7 linked regions of the Homo sapiens genome follow. The protein of the gene in region 1 purifies or fractionates together with the protein of each later gene. This does not show direct contact. Each region holds a gene or a part of one and is shown in the gene's direction. Other genes may lie near its edges.

Evidence for each region.
Region 2: the proteins of YBX3 (region 1) and NELFB fractionate together in Homo sapiens (co-fractionation; one large-scale study listed by BioGRID). This does not show direct contact.
Region 3: the proteins of YBX3 (region 1) and CEP135 purify together in Homo sapiens (co-immunoprecipitation; one large-scale study listed by IntAct). This does not show direct contact.
Region 4: the proteins of YBX3 (region 1) and ABCF1 fractionate together in Homo sapiens (co-fractionation; one large-scale study listed by BioGRID). This does not show direct contact.
Region 5: the proteins of YBX3 (region 1) and HCN1 purify together in Homo sapiens (co-immunoprecipitation; one large-scale study listed by IntAct). This does not show direct contact.
Region 6: the proteins of YBX3 (region 1) and CEP170 purify together in Homo sapiens (co-immunoprecipitation; one large-scale study listed by IntAct). This does not show direct contact.
Region 7: the proteins of YBX3 (region 1) and H2BC14 fractionate together in Homo sapiens (co-fractionation; one large-scale study listed by BioGRID). This does not show direct contact.

Annotation. Positions count from the first base shown.
Region 1 is NC_000012.12:10,706,324-10,709,823, reverse strand, and holds part of YBX3 (Y-box-binding protein 3), read left to right. Parts: intron 1-3,500. UniProt on the Homo sapiens protein: Binds to the GM-CSF promoter. Seems to act as a repressor. Also binds to full-length mRNA and to short RNA sequences containing the consensus site 5'-UCCAUCA-3'. May have a role in translation repression.
Region 2 is NC_000009.12:137,254,055-137,258,126, forward strand, and holds the start of NELFB (negative elongation factor B), read left to right. Parts: upstream 1-1,272; 5' UTR 1,273-1,311; coding exon 1,312-1,557; intron 1,558-1,852; coding exon 1,853-2,016; intron 2,017-2,274; coding exon 2,275-2,374; intron 2,375-2,769; coding exon 2,770-3,000; intron 3,001-4,072. UniProt on the Homo sapiens protein: Essential component of the NELF complex, a complex that negatively regulates the elongation of transcription by RNA polymerase II.
Region 3 is NC_000004.12:55,955,445-55,958,944, forward strand, and holds part of CEP135 (centrosomal protein of 135 kDa), read left to right. Parts: intron 1-1,778; coding exon 1,779-1,920; intron 1,921-3,500. UniProt on the Homo sapiens protein: Centrosomal microtubule-binding protein involved in centriole biogenesis. Acts as a scaffolding protein during early centriole biogenesis.
Region 4 is NC_000006.12:30,574,442-30,577,941, forward strand, and holds part of ABCF1 (ATP-binding cassette sub-family F member 1), read left to right. Parts: intron 1-2,967; coding exon 2,968-3,014; intron 3,015-3,376; coding exon 3,377-3,472; intron 3,473-3,500. UniProt on the Homo sapiens protein: Isoform 2 is required for efficient Cap- and IRES-mediated mRNA translation initiation. Isoform 2 is not involved in the ribosome biogenesis.
Region 5 is NC_000005.10:45,256,915-45,259,380, reverse strand, and holds part of HCN1 (potassium/sodium hyperpolarization-activated cyclic nucleotide-gated channel 1), read left to right. Parts: 3' UTR 1-2,466. UniProt on the Homo sapiens protein: Hyperpolarization-activated ion channel that are permeable to sodium and potassium ions. Displays lower selectivity for K(+) over Na(+) ions.
Region 6 is NC_000001.11:243,245,282-243,248,781, reverse strand, and holds part of CEP170 (centrosomal protein of 170 kDa), read left to right. Parts: intron 1-3,500.
Region 7 is NC_000006.12:27,813,703-27,815,989, forward strand, and holds H2BC14 (histone H2B type 1-M), read left to right. Parts: upstream 1-1,319; 5' UTR 1,320-1,341; coding exon 1,342-1,722; 3' UTR 1,723-1,787; downstream 1,788-2,287. Other genes in the region: H2AC14 (histone cluster 1, H2aj), read right to left, coding at 652-1,038. UniProt on the Homo sapiens protein: Core component of nucleosome. Nucleosomes wrap and compact DNA into chromatin, limiting DNA accessibility to the cellular machineries which require DNA as a template.

The DNA of each region.
Region 1 (3,500 bases):
CAGCTGCCAGAAACCTTGCTTATGGCTTCCTGATGCTACAAAAGCTGAGGCAAGGCCTTCAGTCTGTTTTTTCAAAGCAGTCATTCCGGTAACACTTCTAAAAGCAAAACCACGTGATCCATGCCTATAATAGGGAACCCTTATGGCCAAAGTTTCTAGTTGATAGAAGAACAAAAGAATTAAGGTAACAAGACAGGTGGAATGTGTAAGAGCTTGGACTCTGAAGTCAGGCTGGATTTGAATCCTGTTTCTGCTACTTATTTGTGAGGTTTTGAGAAAACCAAGTTTTAGATTAAGTTCATCCATTAAGTGGGGGCATTAAATGCCTGCACCATAGGGTTATGATGATTAAATATAAAGGATTTAGCAAAAGAGATGCCTGCAGCATAAATAACATTTTTAAAGTATTGGTTTTAAATGAGACAGTGCTGATTTTTAAAGGCAACCTACCAGAATGGAGGTTGTTGATTATTGATTCTCCTTTTTCACTGCAGAATATTAGTACAGCTGTTTTGAGTTTGTTTTGTGCTTAATAAACCTTACATCAATTTTGCAGTTCCTAGGGAACTTGGAAAACTAGGGATAGATCATCATTTTTGTTATCAGTAGCCACAACTTTTTTCTCCTCAGTGTCGTTGGGGTTTCTTTTTTTTCCCCTCACCGCTAGATGTTTTGACCGAACATTATGTTCAGTCTGTTCTTTGCTACCCTTCTCCTGTCCCATCATGCATGACTGTGTTCTTTCTTGTTTTTTTCCTTCTACTCTTCAACAGCTGCCCCTGACAAATGTGCTAAAAATAACAAGTAGACTTACATATATGGAGAGATTGGGTACATGAGACATAGTAGCTTTAGGGCAGCACTCTGGGCTTCTAGGAAACAAGGACAGGAAAAGTCAGTGAGATTGTAATATGCACTTATTTTTAGCGTCTTAATAGTGCTTTCCTGAAATACTCCTCCTTAGTGTTTGGCTTATACAACATATATCACGTTTGCTGAAAGCATGATGATTCTTTTTCATATCTTTTGAAATAAAATGTATTTCACCTTAGGAATTGAAGTTTCAGAGCAAAGTCGTTCCTTAGTGCCACGTAAAACATCATATGCAGAAGCTGATCGAAAGCTGCTTTTGAACATGTACGCTTATTCCTGTAACTTAACTGCATTTAGTTAATTGACTGAATGGCTGACTTTCCTACCTATTCCATGTCAGAAGTAAAAGTTGTCTTGATCCTTTAAACCATATTTTTTAATAATCTTTATAATATCTACTAGCTCTCTGACTAAGTAGTCTGGTTAAGCCAGTCAAGAGCATCAAAAGAAAATTCCTAAAGCTCTCATCCATATAACTAAGCTACTTCAAGGTTGTCAGTGTGTTCTCTTAAAAATATATAGATGGATCTCTAGGATAGTAAAAATTATTGAGATCAAATATAAAAGTCTTCGCCAACGTTTTCTACTATTACAACGCTATGAAATTTATTGGGCATAATAGAAAAAAAAAATAGGAATATATAGGCCAGTGGTATTTGCCTTATGCACTAAGGACATAATATAGCATGATTTATTAGTGACTGAATAACTTCCATTTTTAAAGAAAATAGTTCTATAGATTTGAAAATTAAGTAGAATCATTCACTGAGCTACTATGTGCTTGTTGTCTTTGAGAAAATAATTATATGATGGAGGGAAGGGAGCAACATTGTGGCATCTACCAGGTGACAGATATTTGGAATCGGTTCTTACTTTAGTTGTCTCTAGAGCCTGAGGGAAGCAGTGGTTTCCATATTTTTTGTTGTTGTCACAAATGAAGGAATTTGATTACTTTTAAAAATCAGCAACTTTTATTTTACATGGACAAGAAGTGGTAGAACTTAATTTTAATTCATTTTGTTCTTGTCATCCAGTCTTTCTGGCAGACTCTCATCCTTTATACACGTTAATTGCTGTTTCTGTCAGTCTTTTTTTGTGACTCAACAGTTTCTGAGGAAGAAATGGCCGAGCTTACTTAGGAAACTAAAGAGAGGCTCATGTGATGGGGATGATGTGAATGAAGGGGGAGAGGGTATGAGGTGAGATCTCAGGGGAGGTCAGACATGCTGGTAGACCACTGTAAAGACTTGACCTACTGTAAATGTGATGAGAAGCCAGTAAAGGGATCTCAACAGAAAAGAAACATTGAAGAGATTATTGGACTGTTTTGTTGGGACTAGACCACAGGAGGTAAGAGTATAAAAGCAGGGAGAACAGCTGCTATAATCTTTTCAGTAGAGAAATGAACATGGGTTGTATTAGAGAAGCTGGCAGTGGAAGGTCTGATTAAATGGTTAGATTTGGAAAATGTTTTAAGCATATAGAGGTGTTGGCATTTCATGATGGATTGAGTGAAGAGTATGAGGAATGGTAATATATTGTATGAGGAGTAAATAATACCTCTGCAGTTTTGATTTAAACAAATACGGGAATACTGAAGAAAGATTGGGTTTGGAGGGAAAGGTGAAAATTCTTTGGAGGTCTTTTTCTCATATTAAATTCACGTACAAGTGGAGGTGTTAAGTAGGCAGAAGAAATAAAGCAGAGGGAAGAGGTAGAAAGTGGCTGGAGGATGGAAGGTGTAGTCTTAGATACAGTGGTTGACAACATTTTTGGGAGTTCATTAAGTTGTATTTGAGAAGAGACCTAAATGGAGCAAGGGATCAAGTCCATCAGGTCCCAGGAAAGGCGTGAATGGGAGTCTGAAGGGGAGAAATGGAACTGCAAATAATTATTTGGAATTATTTATTTATTTATTTATTTATTTATTTTTTGAGATGGAGTCTCACTCTGTCACCCAGGCTGGAGTGCAGTGACACGATCTCGGCTCACTGCAAGCTCCATCTCCTGGGTTCATGCCATTCTCCTGCCTCAGCCTCCTGAGTAGCTGGGACTACAGGCACCCGCCACCACGCCTGGCTAATTTTTTGTATTTTTAGTAGAAACGAGGTTTCACTGTGTTAGCCAGGATGGTCTCAATCTCCTGACTTTGTGATCCACCTGCCTTGGCCTCCCAAAGTGCTGGGATTACAGGCGTGAGCCACCGCTCCTGGCTGATTTGGAGTTATAAAACAGGATGTTTAAAGCCGTAGGGGCAGGATGATATTAACTATAAAGTGAGTGTAGGTGGAAATAGGGTCCTAGGATCAAGTTCTGGGACACACCAACGATTAAAGATTAGGAAGATGAGGATTGTCTAGCAAAGGACAGTGAGAAGGAGCAGCCAAGGAGAATGTATTTCAAGAAAGAAATGTGTTAAATGCTTGTTGATAAGTAGAGATTAAGCTGAGAATTGATTATTAGATTTGGTAACTTGGAGGTCAGTGGTTTGGTGAAGACAAAAGTTTAAATAGAATGAACTTAAGAAACAGCAAAGGGCGGGAAGAGGAGACATATTCCCCATTGAGGTTTCTGTAGTGGTGGTCATGGTGTTTGGTTTTTCTTTAGTATGTATGTCTGTAAAGAAA
Region 2 (4,072 bases), on another chromosome or scaffold:
TCGGGCCCCAAGGCTGCCACCTTGCAGGAGCCTTACCTGCGGTGCCGTCACCCGCACCTCCCCAGGTCCTCCCCAGACCCAGGACCCAGACCAGGCCCAGAGCTCAACCCCTTCAAAAAGGCTCTGGGCAGCTGCTTCTGTGGCCTCAGCACCACCCCCTTTCTCAGAGAGGAATCCCAGGCTCAGGATTGTGTGTGTGCTGTGACCCTTGTCCTCCTCTGCCACCGAACCAGCTGGGGGTTGGATCAAGGCACTGGAACCCTCGCCCTAGGGCTGACCAACTTGGCCAGCGGCAAGAGAGCTGTGGTAGCCATGGCCTTGGGAGCTCGGCCCGGCTTGTGGGAACAGGAGCTCTGCTCACGGCTGCACCACCAGGCACCCCTGGTGAGACCCAAAGCTAGGAGTGGGAGCGGCAGGAAAGATGGAGCGATCTCCTCCAGCTGGGCTGAGGAGGGAGGGCTTCCTGGAGGAGGTGGTGGAGGAAGAAGCCTTCAAGGAAGAGCAAGAGTTTGCTGGGCAGCGGGAAAGAAATTTCTAGAGAAAATTTCAGCAGCGGAGACCGAAAAGAGAGAGGGTGTGTGTAGGGGGCTTGGCGCGGCACAGCCTGCGGGAGGGCGGCGGGCTGGAGAGGCGGGGAGGCCCGGGGAGCCCACCCGCCTGGGATAAGAAGGGACACTGTGGAACCTGGACTCTCCTTCACGGCTCCGCGGAGCTCGGTGGGCGCCACAGCCTCCCGGTGCCTGGGAGGGCGGCCGTCGCTCGCGCTCCCGCTGCGGGCCCGGTCTCCGCCAGGCCCCGGCCCCCTGAAGGCGCTCAGATCTCAGTTTTGGCGACAGCGCCGGGGTGGGCTTCGTGCCCGTTTCACGCGGAGGAACCCACGCTCAGGAGGGAGTCTGCGCCTGTGTCCGGCCCCTGCGGGGCAGAGGGGCGGGGAGCTCAACCCCCGGCAAAACGTCCCCGCTGCGCGTGGCTGCCGCGAGATCTGCAAGAGCGTTTTCCACGCTTATGTACACGAAATTCACTCGGCTGCGACGACGTCCGTTCCCGGAGCAGACGGACCCTGAGTCCGCCCCCCACGCCCTCACCCGCCCTCTTCTGCCAGAAAGCCCGGGCGCGGGCGGGACCGGGTGGGCGCATGCGCGCTGGGCTGGCTGGGCGGGGTCTCTCGCGCCGGGTGAGGGCGCTGCTCCCAGGAACCTGCGCGCGGCCCCGGCGGCGTTTCCCGGGGGCCGGTTGGCGGGCGGACCTGGGCGGTGCGGGGCGGAAGTGGGCGGCTGCGGGACGCGCGCGGAGTCGCGCGGCGGGCGGGACCTGGCCGAGCTGGAGGGCGCCGGGGAGCGGGGCTCGGGCGGTCCCCGAGGCCCGGCGGAGCGGGCTTCTGGGGTGTCTGCGGCGGCGCCGGGGGAACGGGCTGGGGATGGGGCGCCTAGCCGGGCGGTGGCCGGGGCCTCGGCCATGTTCGCGGGGCTGCAGGACCTGGGCGTGGCCAACGGCGAGGACCTGAAGGAGACCCTGACCAACTGCACGGAGCCGCTCAAGGCCATCGAGCAGTTCCAGGTGGGGCGGCCCCCGGGGCGGGGGGAGCCCAGTTGGAGGGCCGGGCCGCCTGCTCGGGAGTCGGGCCTGGCGGAGGCGCCGGAAGTTTTCCGGCTTTCTGCTGGTGGCTGAGTCCTGTTCTGGGGGTGGAGTCCGGAGCCAGCACCCCTTTGCTGGACGGCTGGGTGGCTTTCGGTGGCTGCGGTTACCGCCAGCACGGCTGGGAACACCTGGGTGCGTGCCTCCCTGTGCTCTCAGGACCTCGGGGTGCCCGGGCGCACTGGGCTGCGTTTGAGGTTTCTCTTGGCTTCCTCAGACAGAGAATGGTGTGCTGCTGCCATCTCTTCAGTCAGCCCTCCCCTTCTTGGACCTGCACGGGACGCCGCGGCTGGAGTTCCACCAGTCGGTATTCGATGAGCTGCGGGACAAGCTGCTGGAGCGAGTGTCAGCCATCGCTTCGGAGGGGAAGGCTGAGGAAAGGTGGGTCAGCGGGAGGGGTGGGCAGGTGAGATGTGCAGCCGGCCTCTCAGCCTTGGATCGACTCAGGGGCATTTATTGTCCTTTTGGCTCCACATCCTTGCTCCCAGAGGTGGCCTGGGCCTGTGTCTGAGTGACCCCTTGACCCATGTGTCCTGGGCGTGGAGGCTTGTCCTGGTAGCTGTTATCTGTGTAGGGACAGGCAGGTAGCTGCTGCGATTTGGCGCATCGCTGCACCATCAATCCTGTGAGTTGTTCCAGGTACAAGAAGCTGGAAGACCTTCTGGAGAAGAGCTTTTCTCTGGTGAAGATGCCGTCCCTGCAGCCCGTGGTGATGTGCGTCATGAAGCACCTGCCCAAGGTAGGGCCCTAACCCTAACCCTGATGGCGTGGACCGTCCGCCCACTCTCATGCCCTTGGTTAGTGGAAGTTCCGGTGGCCGCCTAGCTCCGGGAGCTTCCTGTGCTGCCTGCCCAAGTGCTGTCCATGGTGAGCTCTGTGCTGACTTCTCCCACATGAGCCGCGTGGAGACCGAACCTTAGCACTGGAGTTAGGGTGTGGGGCCCCTCCTGGGAAAGAGCTGTTGGTATTTAGCATGTCTGTCTGACATGCTGGGGCCGGGGAACCAGTCATAGGTGCCCTGTGGGGTGGAGCTTAGCTCGAGGTGGTCTCTGCGGGGCTGAGGCCTCTTGGCTTGTCTTGAAGGAGACCCAGGGACACAGGTGCCACTCACAGGCAGCCTGTGGTGTCATGTAGGTTCCGGAGAAAAAACTGAAGCTGGTTATGGCTGACAAGGAGCTGTATCGAGCCTGCGCCGTGGAGGTGAAGCGGCAGATCTGGCAAGACAACCAGGCCCTCTTCGGGGACGAGGTTTCCCCACTCCTGAAGCAGTACATCCTGGAGAAGGAGAGCGCTCTCTTCAGTACAGAGCTCTCTGTCCTGCACAACTTTTTCAGTCCTTCCCCCAAGACCAGGCGCCAGGGCGAGGTGAGGGGACAGGCCGTGTGCGGGGTGGGGCACCTCTTGGGGATGCCACGGCTAGCGCCTTCAGCTGCCTGGGGATCAGCACTCTGCTGCCCTGTGAATGATCGGGTGGTTCTGCTTCTTGGCTGGGTGGTGGGGGAGGGCTGGCTTGTACACATGCTGGAAAGAAAGTTGGTTGTTTTTCTGTTTGCATTTTACTTTTCGTTAAAGTGATATATGGACAACATTTAAAATCTGCGGAAAGCCCGCTCATGTGAAGTTAATCCCCCCTCCCCTACTTTTTTTCTTTTTCTTTGAGACGGAGTCTCGCTCTGTTGCCCAGGCTGGAGTGCAGTGGTGTGATCTCGGCTCACTGCAAGCTCCCGGGTTCACTCCATTCTCCTGCCTCAGTCTCCCGAGTAGCTGGGACTACAGGCGCCCGCCACCATGCCTGGCTAATTTTTTTTCTTTTTCTTTTTTTTTTTTTTTGAGACGGAGTTTCGCTATTGTTGCCCAGGCTGGAGTGCAATGGCGTGATCTCGGCTCACTGCGACCTCCGCCTCCCAGGTTCAAGCAATTCTCCTGCCTCAGCCTCCCGAGTAGCTGGGATTACAGGCATGCATCACCACGCCCGGCTAATTTTGTATTTTTAGTAGAGATGGGATTTCTCCATGTTGGTCAGGCTGGTCTTGAACTCCTGACCTCAGGTGATCCGCCCCCCTCGGCCTCCCAAAGTGCTGGGATTACAGGGGTGAGCCACCGTGCCTGGCTTTTTTTCTTTTTTTTTCTTTTTTAAGAGACAGGGTCTCACTCTGTTGCACAGGCTGGAGTGCAGTGGCGTGATCACGACTCGCTGCAGCTTTGACTTCCTGAGCTAAAGTGATCTTCCTGAGTAGCTGGGACCACAGGCACGTGCCACCACACTGGGGCTACTTAAAAATATATATATATTTTTGTAGAGGTGGGGTCTGGCTATGTTGCTCAGGCTGGTCTTGAACTCCTGGGCTGAAGCGATCCTCCCACATCAGCCTTCTAAAGTGCTGGGATTACAGACATGAGGCACCATGCCTAGCCGAGATTTGTTGGGGTTTTTTTT
Region 3 (3,500 bases), on another chromosome or scaffold:
TAGAACTGTGAAGCCAGGTGGGGGAAGACTCAGTGGAGCGTGAGATAGTTTAGTAAATGAGATAGATGGACATGGGGACTGTGAGCAAAAGGCAGAAGAGATAGAGAAAAGTGGGAGTCAACCTTGAAAGTAACTAGAAGATTAAGGCAAAAAAGAGGATAATCAGGTTTCCTGAGGAAAGAATGGGATAGACTCCGGAGAGATTCAAGATGTATAATCAAGATAGTGAGTAAATGTAGATTTGGGAAGCAGAGGAATTCTCAGACTTCTCTTTCGAGTGAATGAGTTAGGTGGAGGGTGATACTATTTCTTAAGTTAGAGAATGTGGGAAGCAGAGCAGGAGTCCACTTTTGGATGTGTGGAGTATGCTATACCCACAAGACATTCATGTCTAAATTTTTGGCAAACAGTGGGATATGTAGATCTGTTCTCAAAAGTGTGGGCCCTGGTGGAGATGCAAATTTAAGAGTCATTGGAGTCTCATGGTAATTGAAGCTATGGGTGTAGTAAGAATTATCTAGTGAGATTATGTAGACTGGGAAGAGAGGAGACCCAGAGTCAGATGTGAGGGAAATTGGTATTTAAGGGACAGGTGGAAGAAGACAGTTTCTGAAAGAAACTGAGGAGCCACCAAGGAGGAAAACCAGGAGGTAAAGAAAGAAGGAATGGTTAGCTTTGTTCAGGTGTGTGAACAAACAGGTCATTTAAATACTTTTGGCCCAGTTTTCTTATCCTTAAAACTCCTTTTGTATACTCCTACCTCTGTAGGAGTATACAAAATTTGTTAGAATTCTAATGAGACAAAATTGTGGATTATGTTTGTTCTTCACAAGGATCTGCTGGTTTTTCAAATACACTTCTAATCTTGGCAAAATCCTTAAAGAGATAAATTGTCCATGTATTTTTGACCAAGACAAGATATATCTAGCCATAAGAAAATTTAGTCCTACTACTTGTAGAGGTTAAGAAAACATTCCCTCCTAATTCAGATTATAGCATGACTTTATATTATAGATGACATTCCATTCATTCTAACTTTGCTACTTACAATTTCAGTTATCTTTTATGTTGATATTAGCTAATAACCACGCATATTTTAGTTCTCACTGCCAGTTTTCTGCTAGTGATAATTTCTTGAGCTCATAATAGTGAACACCACAGGCACATTCAGCTTTTTTTTTTTGAGATGGAGTTTCACTCTTGTTGCCCAGGTTAGAGTGCAGTGGCGCAATCTTGGCCCACCACAACCTCGGCCTCCCGGGTTCAAGAGATTCTCCTGCCTCAGCCTCCCAAGTAGCTGGGATTACAGGTGCCCGTTACCACGCCCAGCTAATTTTTTTGTATTTTTAGTAGAGACGGGGTTTCACCATGTTGGCCAGGCTTGGTCTCGAACTCCCAACCTCAGGTGATCCACCCGCCTCGGCCTTCCAAAGTGCTGGGATTATAGGTGTGAGCCGCCATACCTGGCCGCATTCAGCTTTTAAACTTGCCAAAGTCTTATCCCCATCTAGTGGGCAAACATATTAAGCCTGGGCATATATGCCAAGCTTGCAGGCATATAAAACTTGTTTGATAACCATGTCTTGTTGAGGTTTTTAGGAATGCATTGTTTAGTTAAAGATCAGGGTGGATATTTATATATTGATGGAGAAAATATTTTGTCAATATGTATTATGAACTGCAGACACACTTTATAACCGAAAGGCTAACCTGGAATATTTAATTCTAAGACATGGTTTTGTTTCTTCTTAGTTTTTTAAGACACTCATTCTTTTTAGGTGGCAAGAAAAGAAGTATTGCTTTCAGGCGCCAGCGTATGCAAATTGATGAACCGGTTCCTCCCTCTGAAGTCAGTTCATATCCAGTTCCTCAACCAGATGACCCTTACATTGCAGACCTCCTTCAAGTGGCTGATAACAGGTGCATTAAATAATTCTTTCTTGGCTTGAGTTAATTGAGCACTCAATTAGCTGTAAGTTTCTTGATAGGAGGGCTTTTTTTCTTGTTAACTGTTGTGTCTCCAGTGTCTAGCACAGAACTTTGCACCGGCACTCAGTAAATACTTCCAGATTGATATAAAATGTTTTTACTTGTTTTGAAACTTTGATCAAATGGATCATATATCTAAGGTTTCTGTTCATACTGGCTTAAAAATTATTGCCATCAAGAACCTGTTTAAGTAGAGCTGCTTTGACATTTTGTGTTGTCTCCAAATAAGAGGTATCTTTTGCAAGAATCTTTATTGCTTCAGATTTGTGTCAAATGTCAGTTAAATATGAAGAGATGTGTAACTGGATTTGAAATTCCTTTTTTAATGGTTTCTCTAGCTCTGTGTTTATATTTCCTTACATTTGAATCATATATAAATTCCATTTGATTGAAATGTTATTAAACCTCCTGGGCAAGGCACTGTGTAAGTGTTCTGAGGATATAAAGATGAAGAAGATGGTGTTTCTGTTTTTGAGAAGCTTGTAGTCCAGTACTAGAGATGAGATGAGAAATTCACAAAACACCATTAAGAAAATTATAAGAGGCTCAAAGGAATGGATGAGCACTAGTCTCCACGGTGATAGCTGGAGAAGCATTTCAAACTGTAGAATACACTAATGGAAATAGTTCATGCAGGTAGCTTTTTATTTTGTAGATTATACAGAGAATGTGGGGGGTTTTATTAATCTCAATAGATAAAGCTAAAAAAGAGCACTGGGACCAGGTGCAGTGGATCACGCCTGTTAATCCCAGCACTTTGGGAGGCCAAGGCAGGAGGATCGCTTGAACCCATGAATTCAAGACCAGCCTGGTCAATATAGTGAGACCTTTTCTCTACAAAAAATTTAAAAATTAGCCGAGCATGGTGGCATGCACCTGTAGTCCCAGCTACTTAGGAGGCTGAGGTAGGCAGATCGCTTGAACCTGGGAGGCAGAGGTTGCAATGAGCTGAGATTGAACCACTGCACTTCAGCCTGGGACACAGAGCAAGACCCTTTGAGCTACTGATTAGGATCTCTTCACTCAGTTGTCACATAATATTTTTATATAGTTGTTTGACCTTAACTGGGAAGTGTTTTGTTCTTATTATCTAGGGCTTTTCAGATAATGTGTTTGTATTATTTAGGGAATTATTTGGGCTGCATAAGTGACATTAGTCTTTTTTAATTGTCCTGTTTAATTTATATATGCACATTTTGTTTGTATTCAGAGTCATTCATGCATTTATATGAGTGCAGTTGCATACATACTCTTCTCCTAAACCTAGATTAGTAGAAAATGTTGGTTCCAGTTAACATCAGGTACAAGCCGTATCCAGCCTCATTTACTCCACCCCATGGAAAATCTCTTTTAAAAACAAACCTGGGGCTGGAAGCACTGTGGTTCACGCCTGTAATCCCAGCACTTTGGTAGGCCGAGGCAGGAGGATTGCTTAAAGCCCAGGAGTTCAAGACCAGCTTCGACAATGTGGAAAAACTCTCTCTCTACAAAAAATTTAAAAATTACCCAAG
Region 4 (3,500 bases), on another chromosome or scaffold:
AGAGATTTAAAGGAAGGAGAGATGGTATGGCTGTGTTAGTCCTTGGGGAGAAATTAGTGTCTGGGATGAGTCAGTCATCTGTGTTGATAAGGTGAGCTGATCAGGTTTTTCCTTCTTAGGTACTTCAGTAGATCCTTCCTCCTAATGCCTTTAGGATTAAACTCCTTGGAATAGCATATAAAGCCTTTTATTATTAATCCTGCACAATTTTTCAACTCTCACACTAGTCACCCAATACTGGGCTCAGATTTTTTTTCTTTAACTTTTTTGTTTGTTTTTTGTGGTTTGTTTTTTGGGGAGGAGGAGGGCCCCAAACTTTGAAATGTGTTCTGGATGGAGGATGCAGATTAAGCAAAGACAGACATAAGCGTGCCTGGGACTTCATAAAGGAACAGAAAGAAGCCAGTATCGAGACCAGAGGTGTGGGTAGGGAAACAGAAAAGATAGGGTAGGGCCATTTTAGTCTGTGAAGCCTTTAATTATTGGAATTGTCTCTCGTTAACTCTAGTTTTTTGGAGAAGTAGATGCACCATAAAACTTTCCTGAATAAATGATTACTTTGAAATACATGGAATTCTAGTCTGAGAATATTTTAATGTAGTAGATGGCGGATACCATTGACTTTTTTTCTTTTTTTTTTTTTTTTTTGAGACAGTCTCGCTGTGTCACCCAGGCTGGAGTGCAGTGGCGCGATCTTGGCTCACTGCAACCTCCACCTCCCAGGTACAAGCGATTCTCCTGCCTCAGCTTCCCAAGTAGCTGGGACTACATGCGTGCTCTGCCACGCCCAGCTAATTTTTGTATTTTTAGTAGAGATGGGGTTTCACCATGTTGGCCAAGCTGGTCTCAATCTCCTGACCTTGTGATCCACCCACCTTGGCCTCCCAATGTGCTGAGATTACAGGCCTGAGCCGCCGCACCCGACCAATTTTTTTTTTTTTAATATTAAATACTGAAATGCTTAAGGGTAGAATTAGATAGCAGTGAATGGAAGGGATGTTTTGGAAGAGAAGATAATAAATAGGCCTAAGCCTGAAGGGAAATCATGAGGCTGCCTCCAGTAGGGGAGGGAGTTGGACATGGTCCTCTACCTTCAGGGAAACAAGGATGGAGAGGGGGAGAGCTAGAATCTGTTGAATCTGTTTTGGCTTTACTGGGAACACAGGCTAAACAGTCTCTCAGGTTACTCTCTAGAATGAAAGCACACAGACAGGTAAATATGACACAATGTGATTTGTGCTATAATATTCAAGCAGAACAAGTAAGGCATAGACTGAGGTGTTCATTTGCTTACCAGATAACTCTATTTACATGGCCTATAGGTTTTACAAACAACGTGTCCCCCTGGCCAGGCACAGTGGCTCAGGCCTATAATTCCAACAGTTTGGGAAGCTGAGGCAGGAGAATTGCTTGAGGCCAGAGGTTCAGGATTAGCCTGAGCAACATAGTGAGACCTCCTCTCTAAAAATTATTATTTTTTTAATTAGGCAGGCATGGTGGCGCTTGCCTGTAGTCCTAGCTACTCAGGAGGCTAAAGTGGGAGGATCACCTAAGCCTAGGAATTTAAGGTTACAGTGAGTTATGATCATGCCACTGCATTCCAGCCTGGGTGACAGAGCAAGACCCTGTCTCTTAAAAAAAAAAAAAAAAAAAGGAGGGTGTGTGTGTGTTGTATACATGTGTGTGTATCTACACATATCTCCCAAATTGAATTTATAATATCTTCTTCCTTCCTATAAGACCTTCTCTTCCACTGCCTCCTTAATTAATAAATGGTACCACTTAGCCCAGCTAATTTTGCCAGCTAAAAACACAGGAGTCATCTCTGAGTGCTCTTTTTTTTTTTTTTTTTTTTTTTTTTTTTGAGATAGAGTCTTGCTCTGTCACCCAGGCTGCAGTACAATAGCGTGATCTCAGCTCACTGCAACCTCCGCCTCCTGGGTTCAAGCAATTCTCCTGTCTTAGCCTCCTGAGTAGCTGGGATTACAGGCGCCCGCCACTATGCCTGGCTAATTTTTTGTATTTTTAGTAGAGACTGGGTTTCACCATGTTCACCAGACTAGTCTTGAACTCCTGACCTCAAGTGATCCGCCTGCCTCTGCCTCACAAAGTGCCGGGATTACAGGCATGAGCCACCGCGCCCGGCCGGGTGCTCTTTATTCCCCACCTCTAGCCCCATCCTATGAATTCTTCTTTATGTCCGCTTGTCACCACCACCCAGACTACTCTGACAGCCTCCCCAGTGGATTTCCCACTATGCTTATTCCCTCCGATTCTTGCTGTACTCTGAAGCCAGAGTGAAACTTTAAAGTGTGAAAGTGATCATACCAATAAAGTCCCCATTCCTTAACCTTGCTACAAGGCCCTCACTCCAGCCTTACCTTGCACCATTCTCCCCTCAGTCTGTAAGCTTAGCCATACCAAACCTTTCCCTGTCTCTCAGTGTGTGTGCTTTCTCACAGCTGGGCCTGTGCACAGCACTGGAATTACACCATGTGTCTGACTAACTTCTCATACTCCTCATTACTTCAGTTATTTGCTTAAATGCCATCTTCTTAGAGAGGCCGCCACCAGAGATGAAGCCAGCCTCTCCCCCACCACCAAGTAGGCTTTACCTTTTCTTTTGGAACCTTCAGTACACCTGGAATTACCTATTTAAAAATCTCTCTTCCTATAGCCTGCAAGCTCCAGAGGAGACCACATTTGTCTTGTTCATTGCTATGATCCCCTACGCTAGCACAATATCTGACACATGGTAGCTGTTTAGTAGATACTTAGTGGATGAATGAATAGAGATGGGAATGATTATTTCTGCAGGAGTTGTGAGACAGTACAAATATTTAAGGAGTGATAGTTAAGCTAGAAAAATAATAAAATAGGATAGAGGCTACAGAGATCTTTGCAGGGGGGATCAGACTGCTTTGGAATTTGCAGATAAGCATTCACGATGTCCGCTTAACTTTCTAGACAAAGTGGTGAAGAAAGGGAAGAAGGACAAGAAGATCAAAAAAACGGTGAGAAAATGAGGGTTGAGGATAAGAAATGACTATGGATGTTTCCAAGCTAAATAAATAGCCATGTGAAGGAGGTGGGAGGTCCAAGGGAGGAGAAAAGATCTTGTCAAGAGAGGAGATAGGCAGGGCACGGTGGCTTACACCTGTAATCCCAGCGCTTAGGGAGGCAGAGGTGGGAGGATAGCTTAAGCCCAGGAATTTGAGACCTGCACACTCCATTCTCCACAAAAAGAAAAAAAAGAGAGAGACAGGAGGTAAGGTGAGGGTGGAGTGGAGGGCCAGTGGGCCAATGTGTGGCAGAGCACAGCCTGCTTGGATTGCTCTTGGAAACATGTTTACCTGTAGCTTAACTCCCTTTATAGTTCTTTGAAGAGCTGGCAGTAGAAGATAAACAGGCTGGGGAAGAAGAGAAAGTGCTCAAGGAGAAGGAGCAGCAGCAGCAGCAACAGCAACAGCAGGTACAAGTGCCACAGGGCCCACCAATCC
Region 5 (2,466 bases), on another chromosome or scaffold:
ATAGAATAGCTGATTCTTACAACAACTGTATGATCAGGGATGAGTTAGAGTATTTCTTTTGTCTTTGCTCAAAGCCATACATATATAAATATATATAAAGATTATTAATAAATTCAACAAAAAATAAACTACAATCATGAATATTTTATTTTATCAATATATGCTAATCAAATGTTTTATTTTATTAATGAGTACAGCTTTGCCTCTATTTTTACATCATAAAATTTCCAAGAGCTTATACTTGATAATCACATAAAATCAATTATATTCTATAATTCTGGAATGAGAGGACTTTAAATAGAACATGGATTTTTCAACCACTTCTTTGTTTACCTTTTTCGTATAGTAAAATATGAGCTTATTTTCTTTTTTGCTCTGTGCCTTTTTAGAATGTGGTTGTTCTCCAACTTCAAAACACAACCATTTTGTGTAATTATTGGATATACAGATGAGAAATAATTTTCCTGTAATAATGGTAAATAATTGTCCTGTAATATATTTATACAAACCTATTTTGTTATAATAGTTCTATGACATACCTATTTTGTTATAATAGTTTTATAACATACCTATTTTGTTATAATAGGGCCTTGGGCTCTATTATAACAAAACAGGTTTATATAAATACATTCATATTTATAGCCTTAAACAAAATAGGTTTGTATAGTAGGCCCAAGGCCCTATTATAACAAAATAGGTTTGTATAAATATATTCATATTTATAGCCTTGGGCCCTGCAAAGTTATTTGGAGAGTGATAGAACCTCCCCACACAAGTGGGTTTTAAATGATACCTAAAAGCCTGAGATAGAGTTTATCATAATGAGAATAAGTAGTGAAGCATTCCTGAAAACAAGGAGGATAAATAGTAGCAATGGCAATATATTCTATTCACCAAAAAAGTAGCTTGTCTCCAGGTCTGGATGACCTCTTCATAAGTGAACAATTCCCTGATGAATGCTGTTCCACTTTAAAGAGATGGTTATTTTGCAATTTATAAACTTAACTGAGCATACTATTTTCAGGACACTACAAAGTACATAGTCAAGTTATTACCGTCATTCCTATAGGACAGAGAATGATTTAAACAATATGACATGTTTAAAATTTTAGATGATTTATTTCAAATCCTGAATTATGTCTACTTCAAATTATGAGCAATCTCTATTATCTTTCAGGACTATTTAAAAAATCTCCATACCTCCTCTTTCAGCTTAGGTTTTTATATTTGTTAATTTTACTATGTTACTTTGCTTCTATGGCCCTCACTTGCACTGTTTATAATGTTAACCTGTTTGAATGAGATATCTCTCCATTATATCTTTATCTTTTTAGAACATGTGCCATAAAACCCATGTGGTTATTTTGTTCATATGCACTACAACTAGCAAACTTTTATTTTATGTTCACCTACTTTAAAAAGTACTCATACTGTACCATGGGAAAGAAACATGGGCCTTATAGAATGGAATGCTGAGCTATTTTGAGTCCTGAAAACAATGGCCAAAAATTTAAGGAACTGTGGTTGCTGCATGCACCAAATTGTAGCACATACAAATAAATAAAATACAGTTCTATAACTGTATTCAATATGGTTATTTTCAAGGAAAAATAGGATAGAAATTTTCTTTGAAAGATTTGCTATTGTACTTAGGGAAGTACACCTGCTATTACCCCTCAAAAGCAATGACTTTCTTAAGCAATTTCAATTTTTTTCCTTTTTAACAACCCTGCACTTGCACAACCCTGCATCTCTTGTCTCACCCTAATGCTGACCCTGCTTCCAATTCAGGCTTTGACAGGGACAAATGGAGATTTTAAGGTTTTTTAATGAGAGAAGCCTTGCTGACACTCCCCGCATCCCACCTTGAAAATTATTTAAAGATGATCTTAAAAGAACCTACAGATAATGCTCTGAATTTGTTTACAAGGTCCTTGATGTGGAGAGAATGAGTAATACATTAAATGCTGGGGAAATAATTATCATTTAGTGAAAAATTAAGCATGCTTTTCTAAAATGTGGATGTTTAACAGAGCACAGCTGATTGGGAACACTGGCAGTTCAATGCAGCTGGAGTGTCTCACAGGGTGAAGAGGAACCCAGATCAAGTGGGAAATAGGGATTTCAAAAACCTTCTGAAAGGCTTTTAACATCAGGGCAAAGGTTTTACAGTGTTGTACTTTATATTCTTAATTTAAGCTTATCAACGGGGAGGATTCACATTGAAATGTCTGTTTTGCTAATGTAACAAGGAATAAAATAATTTATGACACAGCAAAAACTGGGGGCTATTTACAACCCCACCCTGCCTTGTGAGGATGCTGGGTCCTAAGGAAGGTCCTAGGTTTGCTAAATAGAGTAATGGGAATAGGAAACTGAAAGTTTACTTGCTTTGCGTAAGATAATATATTGCGGCAGGGAAGGGGTACAAGAAGATAAGAGCTAGAACCTGTGAGAAGGGAAAGA
Region 6 (3,500 bases), on another chromosome or scaffold:
TTTTGAGCAAAGCCAAAAAATTGGGTTATATTTTTAAAGAATGGCTCTGGGAATTCTTTAAAACACTGGGAACCATGAGATAAGCTAGGAAATGATTGGAATGATCTGGTTTAAGAGACATTAATGGCTTAGACTAGAGCGACAGTAGTGGCAATAGTGAAAGTTACTAGTTTCTGGCTTTAGAGAGTCAAATGTTTTGGATATGTTAAGTTTGAAGTGTCTGTTAAACGCCCAAGTGGACACATCAGGTAGGCAGTTAGATATGTAAGTCAAGCATTCAGAGGAGAGGTTTGGACTGAGGATAGTTAAATGTTAAGCATCACCAGTAGACTTAAAGGGATCTCTTGGCTAGGGAGTTAGACTGAGAAGAGATCCAAGAATTGAGAATTGGTACTTTCCACATGGAAAGCTGAGCAAAAGAGAAGGCGCCATCGAGGAGGATTGAAAAGTGGACAGTGGGGTGTGAGGAAACTGAAGAGTGTGTTGTCCCACAAGCCAAGTAAAGGAAGTATTTTTAGAGATAAGGAGTGATCAGTCCCCTGTATCACCTTTAATCACCTAAATACTTCATAAGAAATCAGGCAGTATCCTCTTTCTTTCTGAATGGTCTCTGAGAAAGCAATTTCCTTTTTTAAATCTGGTTTATCAACATGAATGTTCACAGTTATTCTCCCCTGGCAACTACTAAATCTAAAGCCCTGAACAAAGTTTTACTCATAAAGAGGCCAATGCTGTTTCCTACGTGGATGAGTATGGCAGCTGCTGCTGCCTCTGATGTTTGAACAGGAGAAGCGATGCTGTTTCATAGGAAGAATTTATCAGGAAGCTAGTGATAGTCCAGCTACCTCAGAGGTTTATTGTGGTAGCCAAACGAGGTAGATGTAAAAACCAAATGAAAGGTATAATTGCAGATAGGGGTCTCCTTCCCTTATTGCCCCAAGTGTGGTACCAACTTGATAGTGTTAGATTTGAAGAACTATGTTGGCAAATAAAAATATTTTTCATTTTGAGTCTGTAGGAATAGTTTTTTACTTCCTATGCACTCTATCCCGATAGGCAGTTTCGCACATCATTTTATAATATTCTTGAGGGTAGAGAAAAGGGCTAGAAAGAGGATAAGAACAACCAGGGCAGGCGCGGTGGCTCACGCCTGTAGTCCCAGCACTTTGGGAGGCCGAAGCGGGTGGATCACCTGAGGTCAGGAGTTCGAGACCAGCCTGGCCAACATGGTGAAACCCCGTCTCTACTAAAAATACAAAAATTAGTCAGGCGTGGTGGCGCAGGCCTGTAATCCCAGCTACTCAGGAGGCTGAGGAAGGAGAATTGCTTGAGCCCAGGAGATGGAGATTGCAGTGAGCCAAGATCACGTCACTGTACTCCAGCCTGGGCAACAGGGTGAGACTCCATCTCAAAAAAGAAAGAAAAGAACAACCAGGCTTTGAGATAATAGCTTTTTTTCCCAATCCTAAACTCATCCTTTAATTCTAAACAGTGTCTAAATAAAGAGAATTGAGGTAGAAAAGTAAGCAAGTTAAAAGGCTTCCTTACTTTTTTTTTCCCTAGGCCAGCCAGGAAGACTTTCTTCTTTTAACTGACTTTTTTCTGGAAAGTGTTCAACTGAGTAATGGTTTGTCACATGTTACATGGAATAGAAAAAGTGCAAATTCAAAGCTTAGGGACTGGTTAGGGGTTTTGAACTCTAGGCAGCCAGCTAGAAACTGATTTGAGGAAGCAGGAGGGTGGGGGAAATGAGTCTGCTTGATGATAATAGGGGTAAAGTGCAAAATACTTATTTTGGTGAAAAAGGAACATCGCAAATACAGGACTTTTTGTGGTAAGCTTTTTGAGGCAATAGGACTATAACTTCACAATACATAGGTATCTTGCAGACCTTATATAATATGATTTGCTATGGCTGGTCATTAAATACTTCTCCTTGGATAAAAAATGCATATAATGCATTGCAAATTGAAGGCCATTTTATTTTTTATATTACAAATCTAATCCTAATACATGGCAGAAAATTTAGAAAACAAGATTTTCTACCATTAAGTACTATCATAATCCCACTAGCCAGTAACCCTGTTATGTATTCTTGTCTATTCTGGTTTAATTTGGTAACATTTTATCATGAAGTTAAACTTTCTGGCTCTAACTTTTAATGTGGCATAGAATCTGTCTTCTCAAACATGTAATCTACTTACACACAATTTATGAAAATTAAATGTATTTTTAAAATTGTAAACAACAGGCCGGGCCCAGTGGCTCATGCCTGTAATCCCAGCACTTTGGGAGGCCGAAGCCAGCAGATCACTTGAGGTCAGGAGTTCAAGACCAGCCTGGCCAACATGGGGAAACCCTGTCTCTACTAAAAATACAAAAATTAGCTGAGCGTGGTGGTGCACACCTGTAATCCCAGCTACTCGGGAGGCTGAGGCAGGAGAATCGCTTTAATCCAGGAGGCAGATGTTGTAGTGAGCTGAGATTGCTCCACTGCACTCCAGCCTGGGTGGCAGAGCGAGACTCTGTCTCAAAAAAAAAAAAAAAAAAAAAAAGTAAACAACACTGTAATGGACATTTCTAACTCTGAATTTCTGTGCAAATCAATGTTTTTCTTTGATTTCAACAAATTATGCTTAAAATACAATGCAGATACAAATGCAGAATTCTACTAATTAAACCTTTTCTAACTTTTTAATAAAATTACCCCCTCCAGTTTATATCAGTTTATTCTTCTACCACTGGCATATGAAACTGTGTGTTTCTTCACCCCTTCATCAGTGCTGAATATTACGTATCTTTTTTAAAATTTGCTTTCTTTTTTCTTTTTTTTTTTGAGACGAGGTCCCGCTCTGTTACCCAGGCTAGAGTGGAGTGGTGTGTTCATGGCTTGCTGCAGCCTTTACCTCCTGGGCTCAAGGGATCCTCTCCGCTCAGTCTCCCAGGTAGCTGGGACTGTAGGCATGGGCTGCCATGCCCATCTAAGTTTTTTTGTTTTCTTTTCTTTTTTGTGTTTTTTTTGTTTTGTTTTTTGTTTTTTGTTTTTTGTTTGTTTGTTTTGTTTTCTTGAGATGGAGTCTTGCTCTGTCGCCCAGGCTGGATTGAAGTGGCGAGATCTCGGCTCACTGCAACCTCTGCCTCGCGGGTTCAAGCAATTCTTCTGCTTCAGCCTCCTGAGTAGCTGGAATTACAGGCACACACCACCACACCTGGCTAATTTTTGTATTTTTAGTAGAGACGGGGTTTCACCATGTTGGTCAGGCTGGTCTTGAACTCCTGACCTCGTGATCCGCTCACCTTGGCCTCCCAAAGTGCTGGGATTACAGGCGTGAGCCACCGCACTGGCCAAGGTTTTTTATTTTTTTATAGAGACAAGGTCTCATTTTGTTCCCTAGGCTGGTCTCAAACTCCTGGGCTCTAGCAGTTTTCCTGTCTCAGCATCCCAAAGTGGTGGGGTTACAGGCATGAGCCACCCAATCTGGACAGTTTTGCCACTTTGA
Region 7 (2,287 bases), on another chromosome or scaffold:
GGTTTTGTTTAAATATACCCATTGAGCAGCTCCTTTCCTAGAGGCCAGGAAATAGGGCTGAGGACTCTACCCTCAGTTTTCAATCTAGAGACTGTGAAACTGTAGAGAAACACACTGTCTAGTAGCAATCCATATACTTTTTCTAGTAAGCATATTAAAAACCGAATACTATACTATATTCCTTACAGCCCAGTGAGTTTCCCAGAATCATAAATAAAACCCACCAGTACCTACTATGTAACTCCCAGTAAGAGGCTTTGACTTTTGTCAAAGTTGTGTCCCAGTAAAATGCCTTCAAGATACCACAAACTGGCCTGGCGCAGTGGCTCACGCCTGTAATCCCAGCACTTTGGGAGGCCTAGGCGGGTGGATTACCTGAGGTCGAGTCAGAGACCAGCCTGGCCACCAAGGTAAAACCCCTGAAAACACGTGTTAGCAAACGTACCTTGTTAGTATCTACATTAAGAAAAAAAAAAAAAAAAAAAACCTTGAAATTCAGGCAATGTAAACAGGTTAAAGATTAACACCGAAACATCATGAGTGTACTGTGTAGTGGTGAAGCAGCTGAAAACGGACTCGTGTCATCTTTTTATGATTGTTGAAGTGGCTCTGAAAAGAGCCTTTGTTTTTATGCGCTTTTCAACTCGGTCTTTACTTAGTCTTGTGGTGGCTCTCAGTTTTCTTTGGCAGCAGCACGGCCTGGATGTTGGGCAGGACGCCACCCTGTGCGATGGTGACTTTGCCCAGAAGCTTGTTGAGCTCCTCATCGTTGCGGATGGCCAGCTGGAGGTGACGCGGGATGATGCGAGTCTTCTTGTTGTCGCGGGCCGCGTTGCCAGCCAGCTCCAGGATCTCGGCGGTCAGGTACTCCAGCACCGCCGCCAGGTACACCGGCGCTCCAGCACCGACCCGCTCCGCATAGTTGCCTTTGCGGAGCAGGCGATGCACTCGGCCTACGGGAAACTGAAGCCCGGCCCGAGAAGAGCGGGTCTTGGCCTTGGCGCGAGCTTTGCCTCCCTGCTTACCACGCCCAGACATGGCAAAAGGTCTATTACCTTTACGGTCAAGAAAGACTGAAATGAAATTGGAAAAACGTACATTTTATAGCCTCTACTGGGCGCGAAAAGGAAGCTGTGCGATTGGCTTACGTTTTATTTTTATTTAGACCAATAGGACTCGAGTATGCAGGATACCTATTTTGATTGGGCAAAACTGGCATCTGACGTCATCCACGGATAATCACCAATCAGCACTGACCTATTCTACTCCTAATTTGCATAATAACATTTAAATAAAGAGGACGAAACAGCCCTAAGGTTGTCTTTTATTTTGTTTTCCACCATGCCTGAACCAGTCAAATCTGCTCCAGTCCCTAAAAAAGGCTCCAAGAAGGCCATTAACAAGGCTCAGAAGAAGGATGGAAAGAAGCGCAAACGCAGCCGCAAGGAGAGCTACTCTGTGTATGTGTACAAGGTGCTGAAGCAGGTCCACCCCGACACCGGCATCTCTTCCAAGGCTATGGGAATCATGAACTCCTTCGTCAACGACATCTTTGAGCGTATCGCCGGAGAAGCGTCACGCCTGGCGCATTACAACAAGCGCTCGACCATCACTTCGAGGGAGATCCAGACGGCCGTGCGCCTACTGCTACCCGGGGAATTGGCCAAGCACGCCGTGTCCGAGGGCACCAAGGCCGTCACCAAGTATACCAGCTCCAAGTGAGCCTCTCGCTGCAGTAACAGTTCCGCCGTGACCCACACCCCAAAGGCTCTTTTCAGAGCCGTCCACGTTTCTCAAGAAAGAGCCAGTTCACTGTTAAGTTTGTCTCCCATTAGGTACCCTTTGGGACTCGCTTCGTACATATAAATGTACTTGTATATGTGGGTTTTTTTTTGTTTTTTGTTGTTGTTTTTGAGGTGTAGTCTCACTTTGTTGCCCACCCTGGAGTGCAATGGCACGATCTCGGTTCACTGCAATCTCCACCTTCCGGGTTCAAGCGATTCTTCTGCCTCAGCCTCTCGAGTAGGTGGGACCACAGGCATGTGGCACCAGGCCCTGCTACTTTTTGTATTTTTAGTAGATACGGGGTTTCACCACGTTGGCCAGACTGGTATCGAACTCCTGACCTTAGGTGGTCCACTTGCCTCGGCCTCCCAGTGTTGGGATCACAGGTGTGAGCCACTGCGCCCGGCCCAAAATATTTTAAAGAGGATTATTAGCAACTATGAGTGACCGTGGCTTAGGGAAGACACAATCCCCCGAGACCATGAGAAAGTGGTTCTGAGGC